2 linked regions of the Homo sapiens genome follow. The protein of the gene in region 2 purifies or fractionates together with the protein of the main gene of each other region. This does not show direct contact. Each region holds a gene or a part of one and is shown on either strand. Other genes may lie near its edges. The genes, in order: KCTD21 and LILRB3.

What was found.
Region 1: the proteins of LILRB3 (region 2) and KCTD21 purify together in Homo sapiens (affinity purification with mass spectrometry, with the first as the bait; 2 studies listed by BioGRID). This does not show direct contact.

The regions. Positions count from the first base shown.
Region 1 is NC_000011.10:78,178,453-78,182,261, forward strand, and holds part of KCTD21 (BTB/POZ domain-containing protein KCTD21), read right to left. Parts: intron 1-3,809. UniProt on the Homo sapiens protein: Probable substrate-specific adapter of a BCR (BTB-CUL3-RBX1) E3 ubiquitin-protein ligase complex mediating the ubiquitination and subsequent proteasomal degradation of target proteins. Promotes the ubiquitination of HDAC1.
Region 2 is NC_000019.10:54,215,595-54,220,133, forward strand, and holds the end of LILRB3 (leukocyte immunoglobulin-like receptor subfamily B member 3 isoform 2 precursor), read right to left. Parts: intron 4,326-4,539; coding exon of another isoform or gene 4,275-4,325; intron 4,011-4,274; exon of another isoform or gene 3,652-4,010; coding exon 3,535-3,651; exon of another isoform or gene 3,308-3,534; coding exon of another isoform or gene 3,282-3,307; exon of another isoform or gene 3,273-3,281; coding exon of another isoform or gene 3,245-3,272; coding exon 3,169-3,244; intron 3,089-3,168; coding exon 3,051-3,088; coding exon of another isoform or gene 2,820-3,050; coding exon 2,767-2,819; intron 1,884-2,766; coding exon of another isoform or gene 1,881-1,883; coding exon 1,725-1,880; intron 1,646-1,724; coding exon 1,499-1,645; 3' UTR 684-1,498; downstream 1-683.

The sequences.
Region 1 (3,809 bases), on a different chromosome or scaffold from region 2:
GCCACAGTGTCCATCATCACAAATCCACGGCCCTGCTACAAAAGGCAAAATGACATGACACGAGGGGAGTTTCATGAGTCGGCGGAGGTTTGCAGTCAGGTAGTAATGAACTAACACCACTGAGCCTCAGTCCCCTATGTGTTCCCAGATGCCTCCTGGCCACCTCCACTTGGATATTCTGCAAGTGAGGCAGGAGAACAAGGTTTGGAGACAAGGAACTTAAGGCCAATTTGTGCTAACTTCATAAAAGAGAAAACACCAAGGTCTGGGGCAAAAAATCTGAGGCCAATTCTGTTGACTTCCCAAAGCTGGATCAGAAGGAAAATCCTGGGTCTGGGGGCAGGGACCCTAAGACCAATTAACACCAAATTCCTAAAGCTGAACCAAGAGGAAAAACGCCATCGCCCCAGCTGGGTGACAAAGGATCAAACGCTCCTCTTTGCAACCCTCCCACTCCACCATGTCTCAGGTGGAAAGGGAGGGGGGCCTTGGATTGGGACCATCCCTTTATCTGCATAGGGTGCCCATTCACCTCAGCCTTTAATTAGCCACAGACTAAATCCTTCGTCCAGATAAGGAGTAGCTGATAAGAACCTCAAATGGGGTACCTAAAGCCCAGAGAACTTTGTAACTGGGCCTTTGAGTTCCTTGCTCCGGCCCACTCCCACCCTGAGGAGTGCTTTCTCACTTTAATTCCTGCTTTCACTGCTTCATTCCTGCATTTCATTCCCCTGCTACTCTTTTTATTTTTACTTTTTTTTTTTTTAGTAGAGACGGGTTTCACCACGTTGGCCAGGCCGGTCTTGGACTGACCTCAAGTGATCTGCCCATCCAGGCCTCCCAAAGTGTGGGGATTACCACGTCTGCCCCTCTGCTACTTTGTTCAAAACGCCAAGGACCTGGAAAATTCCTAGTCAAGACCCTCCACCAGTAACACAGGTACCAGAAGCCTCACCTGTGCCTTCCTCTGCCCCTAACTCTGCTGTGAACTCTTCTGAGCCACCCAACTGCCTGAGGGAAGCAGCCCCGACTCTTCAGCCCTACAGTTTGTCTTGACTATCTCCTTGAACCCATCCCTATAGCTACTCCCAGAGCTCAGGCCTCATCCCTGCCCCCTGCACCCCTACATCCTCACTCGGCTCCCTGCCTTCTGTCCACCTTCCTTTCTGGTCTGCAGACTGACCTTCCTGAAGTACCGTCCCTGCCCAACCACCTTCCTCTTTCCCTCTCATGTCTAACCCTGCCCTCCACGCACGCCAGACGCCACTGAGTCAGTCTCCTTCATGCTGACACCTGCCCTGCCTTTGCTGTCCCTAGACCACCCCTGTCTACCTTCTCTACCCTCTCTGCTGTCTACCTTTCAGGCCCAGCCTATGAGTCATCACCTCTGTACTACTGTCCCCAGATCTCCACTAGGTTAACAGCTCTCCTCTCAGGGCTTCCTGGTGCCTTGCACAACCCCCTCTGGCAGCACCCAGCATTCCACCTGCAGCGATCTCCTTTGCACATGGCCCTCTTCCCTGGCTATCTCAAAATGCAGATCAGTGGACATCCATATGGGGAAAAAAAGAACCTTGGTCCATCTCTTATGCTGTTTATGAAAAATAAACTCAGAACATATCATAGACCTAAATATAAAATCTAAAACTACACAACTTCTAGGAGAAAATCTTTGCAACTGTGGATTAGGCAAAGATTTCTTGGATAGGACCTAAAAGGGACAAACCATTAAAAACATCAATAAACTAGACTTCATCCACGTAAAAAACTTCTGCTCTTCAAAAGACACTGTTAAGAAAATGAAAGAATAAGACACAGATGGAGAAAATATTTGCAAAACACCTATCTGATAAAGGATTGTTAACCAGAATATATAAAGAACTCTCAAAACTCAGTAAGAAAATAACCCAATTAAAAAACACATAAAGCTGGGTGCAGTGGCACATGCCTGTAATCCCAGCACTTTGGGAGGCTGAGGCGGGCAGATCACTTGAGGCCAGGAGTTCAAGAACAGCCTGGCCGACATGGTGAAACCCTATCTCTACTTAAACAAAAACAAAAACAAAACAACTAGACAAAAGATCTAACAAATACTCCAGCAAAGAAGATATGCAGATGACTGACAATCACATGAAAAGATGGTCAATATCATCAGTCATGAGAGTATGAAAATTGAAACCACAATTATATGCTACTATATACCTATTAGTGGCTCATATAAAAACTGACAATGCCAATTGAAGGTGAGTACATAGAACAATGGAAACCTCATACACTGCTGACAAATGGTAACCGCTGTTGAAAATAGTTTGACATATGGTATGGTTTGGCTCTGTGTCCCCACCCAAATCTCACCTTGAATTGTAATAATCCCCATGTGTCAAGGGCAGGACTAGGTGGAGATGATTGAATCATTGGGGCGGTTTTCCTCATGCTGTTCTTGTGATAGTGAGTTCTTAAGAGATCTGATGGTTTTATAAGGGGTTTCCCCCTTCGCTTGGCACTTCTCCTTGCTGCTGCCATGTGAAGAAAGACATGTTTGCTTCCCCTTCCACCATTATTTTAAGTTTCCTGAGGCCTCCCTAGTCCTGTGGAACCGTGAGTCAATTAAACCTCTTTCCTTTGTAAATTAGCCAGTCTGGGGTATGTTGTTATTAGCAGTGTGAGAATGGACTAATACAGCATACAATTATCACGTGACCCAATGACCCTACTCCTAGGTATTTATGCCGGAGAAATGGAGACATATGTCCATGCAAAGACTCATATGTGAATGTTTATGGCAGCTTATTCATAATTGCCCAAACTCAGAAACAACTAATTGTAAACAGATAAATTGCAGTACATCCATACAATAGAATATGACTCAGCAATATATAGGAACTACTAAAAGACATTACCACATACATGAATTTCAAAAGCATTACGTCAAGTGAAAGAAGCCAGCCTCAGAAGGTTACATGGTACATGACTCTATCTGTATAACGTTCTGGCAAAGGCAAAACTATAAAGACAGAAATCAGATTAAGTGAATTCTTGGGGCTGGGTTGGAGGGAAAAGACTGGTTACAAAGAAACACAAGGCATATTTTGGAGTGATGGGAATATTCTATTAGGTTGGCACAAAAGTAATATGATGTGGTGGTGGTCAAATGTGTTTATAAAGACTGTCAAAATTCATGTAACCATACACATCTAAAAGGGTGAATTGTGGCCAGCTGTGGTGGTTCATGCCTATAATCCCAGTACTTTGAGAGGCCGAGGCAGGAGGGTCACTTGAGCCCAGGAGTTCAAGACCAGCCTGGAAAACATAGTAAGACCCCTGTCTCAATTAAAAAAAAAGTGTAAATTTTACCATACTTAAGTTTTACCTCCATAAACAGGAAAAAAAATGAAGGTTGTGACCTATTGGCAAGTCATGACATCAATACAGTTAAGTGGGTTGTAACCAATTATATATTGTTGTGAAACTTTTGTTTCAGTTGTGTGTCTATGAACTGGATCATGGTATCTTCATACTGTGGCTGACAAAACAATTTTTTTTGGAAACCACTGCCTAGTTTGTGAGCTGAGAGCAACTGCATGTCTCACGTCTGCATAGTCACCGCCTTGCACTCAGGGGAGGGGTTGTGTGATACTGTGATATAATAAGCAATATACATTTTAGATTTGTCCCCAGCTGTTGGCCAGGGCTAAAAACTGTGTAATTTCCCAAGTGATAATAGCTATAGGAACTTCTTCTATTTTAATAATTGGTTTTGTCCCAGTAGGTGGAGGTTGCAGTGAGCCAAGACTGTGCCACTGCACTCT
Region 2 (4,539 bases):
AAAAGAGATTACAAGATTGGAATTTTTTTTTTTTGAGACAGAGTCTTGCTCTGTTGCCCAGGCTGTAGTGCAGTGGTGTGATCTCGGTTCACTGCAACCACTGCCTCCTGGGTTCAAGCAGTTCTCTGCCTCAGCCTCCCTAGTAGCTGGGATTACAGGTGCCTGCCACCACACCTGGCCAGTTTTTGTATTTTTAGTAGAGATGGGGTTTCACCATCTTGGCCAGGCTAGTCTTGAACTCCTGACCTTGTGATCCACCCGCCTTGGCCTCCCAAAGTGCTGGGATTACAGGCATGAACCCCCGTGCCTGGCCTGTTGTTTATATTTTATCACATTAAAAAAGCAGAAGGATGAAAAATGTATTATGCAAACACTAATCAACAGATAATTTCACCGGCTTGTTAGTTGTTTTGTTTTTTTGAGACAGGGTCTCGTCCAGGCTGAAGTGCTGTGGTGCGATCTCGGCTCATTGCAGCCTCGACCTCCTGTACCCAAGTGATCCTCCCACCTCAGCCTCTCAAGTAGCTGGGACTACAGGTGTGTGCCACCACGCCGGACTGGTTTTATTTTTTGTAGAGATGGGGCCTCACAATGCTGATCTGACTGACTCGAACTCCTGAGCTCAAGCTATCCTCCCCACTTGCCCTCCCAAAGTATTGGGATTACAGGTGTGAGCCACTGCACCTGGTTATGCTTCTTTTTTATTTTTTTTCTTTCTTTTTTTTTTTTTTTCGAGACGGAATCTCACTCTGTCGCCCAGGCTGGAGTGCAGTGGTGCGATCTCAGCTCACTGCAAGCTCTGCCTCCCGGGCTCATGCCATTCTCCTGCCTCAGCCTCCTGAGTAGCTGGGACTATAGGCACTCGCCACCACGCCCGGCTAATTTTTTTGTATTTTTAGTAGAGACGGGGTTTCACCGTGTTAGCCAGGATGGTCTCGATCTCCTGACCTCATGATCCGCCCGCATCAGCCTCCCAAAGTGCTGAGATTATAGGCGTGAGCCACCGCGCCCGGCCTATTTATGCTTCTTAATTTTCCCATGTCATAAGTTCGATGTATAATATTTACATTATCATTCAGTTTAAAACATTCACTGTTTTTTTTTTTAGAGACAAGGTCTCGCTCTGTCACACAGGCTGGAGTGCAGTGGCACAGTCATAGCTCACTGCAGCCTCAGCAGCCTTAACTTCTTGTGTTCAAGGAATCCTCCCCACTCAGCCTCCTGAGTACCACACCCGGCCTTTACGTCTGTTTTTGTTTTTTGTTTTTTTGTTATTAACTCATTGATTGTTGAGAAGTCTGTTGCTTTATTTCCAAAATGGGACGATATTAGTCATCTTTGAGTCAGGTGAGTCCCACAAGTTCCCAGCGTCTCCTCATGGTCTGTGTTAGGGGTCCAGGCTGACTGGGGTTCACTGGTGTCCACTGGGGGCAGCTCCCGTGCCTTCAGCAGTCCTGAGTCTCCTTCTGCTGAGTGTGGGGTCTGCGTACCCCCCGGGCTAGTGGATGGCCAGAGTGGCGTAGATGCTGGGCTCAGCTGGAGGTTCCCCTTCCTGGGATGGAGGAGGCTCAGTTGCCTTCCGTCTAAGGGTCAAGCTGTGCAGCTGGGCGTAGGTCACATCCTGGGAGGCTTCAGATGCAGCAGCCTGCAGCGGGGGAGAGTGAGAGGTAAGGAACGTGGTGGGGGTGGGGGAGGCCTGGGGGCCTGGAGAGGAAAGGACTCACCTCAGTGTCCATCTGCCTGTCCTCTTCCACCTGTCTGTCCTTTGTGTCCAGGAATTCCCCAGACAGTGAGGAGGGAGGAGAGGCCATTTCTCTCCTAGGACTGGAGTGTTTCACCGGGGCATACGTCACTGCCTGGGGGTCTTCATCGTGTGGGCTCTGCTGGAGAGAGACAGTGGTGGGGGGTGTCCTTGAGTCCCCCTGACCTCCTGGAGTCAATTTTCCTCACTGTTCCCGGGGTGATCCGATTACATCCCTTTCCTGATGGAATCTCAGGGACGCCCTAAGGCCGTGGAGGGTCTGGCCGCTCCCTCCCTGTGGTTCTGGCCTCTGCTCCTCACTCTGACCTTGCCCATTTGGCTGCAGCCTCACAGGCCTTCCTGCAAGAGCTCGCTGCTGCCTGGGGGCCTTTGCACGGCTGTTTCCTCTGCCTGCAGGGGCTCGTCCATCAGAGGATCATGTGCCCCACTCTGTCCAGGCTTCTCAGATGACAGCTGAGCAGACAGCCCTCCCCTTCCATTCAGACTGGCCCCACTGCCCCACACTCTCTGCCCTTTCCCTGGTGTATGTTCCTTACAGCACGTTGCACTCCTGGACACGATGCATTTATTTGCATTTTGTCTCCCACCGTGAGGTGAGCTCAGGAGGCGGGGGCGGCTTTGCTCCCTGCTGTGTCTGCAGCTCCCATGGGGAGCCCCATCCACAGTGAGCTCCCTGGGAACACTCGCTGGATGAATGAATGAAGAGGAGCCCAGGGGACGGAGGTGGTTCATTTATTCGTCATCCTCCTGAGGCCTGGGGAGAGCTCTAACAACCAGACGGCCAAACAGAGGATGAGGAGCAGGAAGGGGACCCGGGAGGAGGCCCACGAGGTCCCAGGACAGCAGAAGAGAGTGAGGTCACAGCAGGCGGGAGGCAGCATGCTGGACAAGGAGGGGTCCACCGTGACGATGCTGAGAGCCGGGGGAAGGAGGACAGAGAAGTCCTGCAGGATTAGATCTGGCACCAGGAGGCCTTTGGTGCCTGGGACGGGGCGGGATCTCACCTGACTGTCCAGCTCCACCCTGTCCTCAGACTGTGTGTCCTTCACAGCAGCATCTGCTGGGGCAGAGCAAGGGGTTCGTCTCCTGGTTCTCTGAGACCTCTCAGTCCTGCTGGCCCCCTGCCCTGCTCCCAGATGGGGCCACCGAATGCAGGGAGGTCCCACAGTGTGGGGCAAGACCATCTTCCACGGAGCCCCAGACCCTTCCCAGCCCCTCCCTGTTGCTACTGAAATTTTGGGACTCCTGTCTCTCCAGCACCCCCATTTGTCCCCTCTCTTCCTCTTACAGAGGTTTTCTTCCTGGACGTCAGCAGCTGGGCTGGACCTGGAGGAGGACATGGGAGTGTGAGGGGCAGTGTATGGGCTGTGGTGGGTGGGAGTCTGTGGTCTTTGGGGCAGAATTACCTCCTCAGCAGGCCCCTGTCCTTGGGCTCTGTCTCCGCAGCCCCTGCAGGACGCTGGAAATCAGTCTTTCTCTGGTCTGGGTGAAGATGGACAGAGTCTCAGCCCTGGGAACATTAGAACTCCCATTCTACACATGCAACTTGAGGGAAAGAAGGAAAACTAAAAATATTCCTGCATGGATGTTCCAAATATTTTATGAGATAGAAAAAAACTCCCATGAATACTGAAGTTTGTAAATGCGTATTGAAATTACGTGCCCCTGGAACCGGTTTTCTAAACTGACACCCCTGTGTGTTTGGGTTCCCTCTGGCTGGTGCCCTGAGCCCACCCTCGGTCGACCCATGGGTCCCCCGCTTCCCTACTCACCAGATGTCCTGTGTTTGCTGTGACGCTGACGGAGGAGGAGGAGGAAGAGGAGGAGGAAGAGCAGCAGGACGAAGGCCACCGAGACCCCAATCAAAACCTCCAGGTATCTTCCCAGACCTTGACATGAGGACGTCAGGAGTGGGAATGATGTCATTGATGTGAGCACCTACTGTGTGCAGGCGCGAGCCAGGTCTTTCCTTCGTGACCTCCAACCCTCACAAGCAGTCGTGCAACATGGAATTGCCACCCGTACAACCCATTTCACAGATGCACAAACTGAGGCTCAGAGCAGGGAGTCGCCTGCCCCAGGCCTCCAGCGAGGAAGCGGCAGAGCTGGGAAGGGAGCCCGGGAGTCTGACCTGCAGCCCTTGTTCCTGCACCAGAGCCGAGACCCGGAGCTGCAGGGAAAGAGCCTGACCGTCCTGAACCACGGCCCTGCTCCCCTCCCCTGCCCCAGGTCACCGTCACTGCTGCAGGTGGGACGGGACAGGCCCCTGTGGAATCGGGTCTGGGAGGTTCCCTGGGAGGCCTCCTCTCCCAGGAGGTCACAGCTGGGGGTCAGAGCTGAAAGGAACTTTCCCACCCACAGGCCTCTCTCCTTTACACTTGGAGAAACTGAGGCCCAGGCAGGGGAGGGGCCTGTCCACATCACCACCTCCAGAGGAGCCTGAACCTAGGACAGAACCCACCCCTGCCTCCCCTGGACCCCGCCCATCTCCCACTCAGAGCCCCTCACTCACCATTCTGAGGGCCTGACCCTGGGGGGTTAAGGGGCTGGTCCTCAGGACCTCCTGGGTCAGGACAGGGAGGTGAAGGCTGGGGCTGTCTTGCCCCCCACATCAGCCCGGCTCCTCCTCCTGGCTGGGCCCCAACATCTCCCTCTGCCTCGACCCCCGCCCCTCACCAGCCCAGCCTCAGAGCCCCTGGGACACAAGCCCGTCCTTGAGGGGAGGGGAGTGGGATCCTTTGGGAGACTCAGACTGCCCTGGGGGAGGCGGCGCTCCC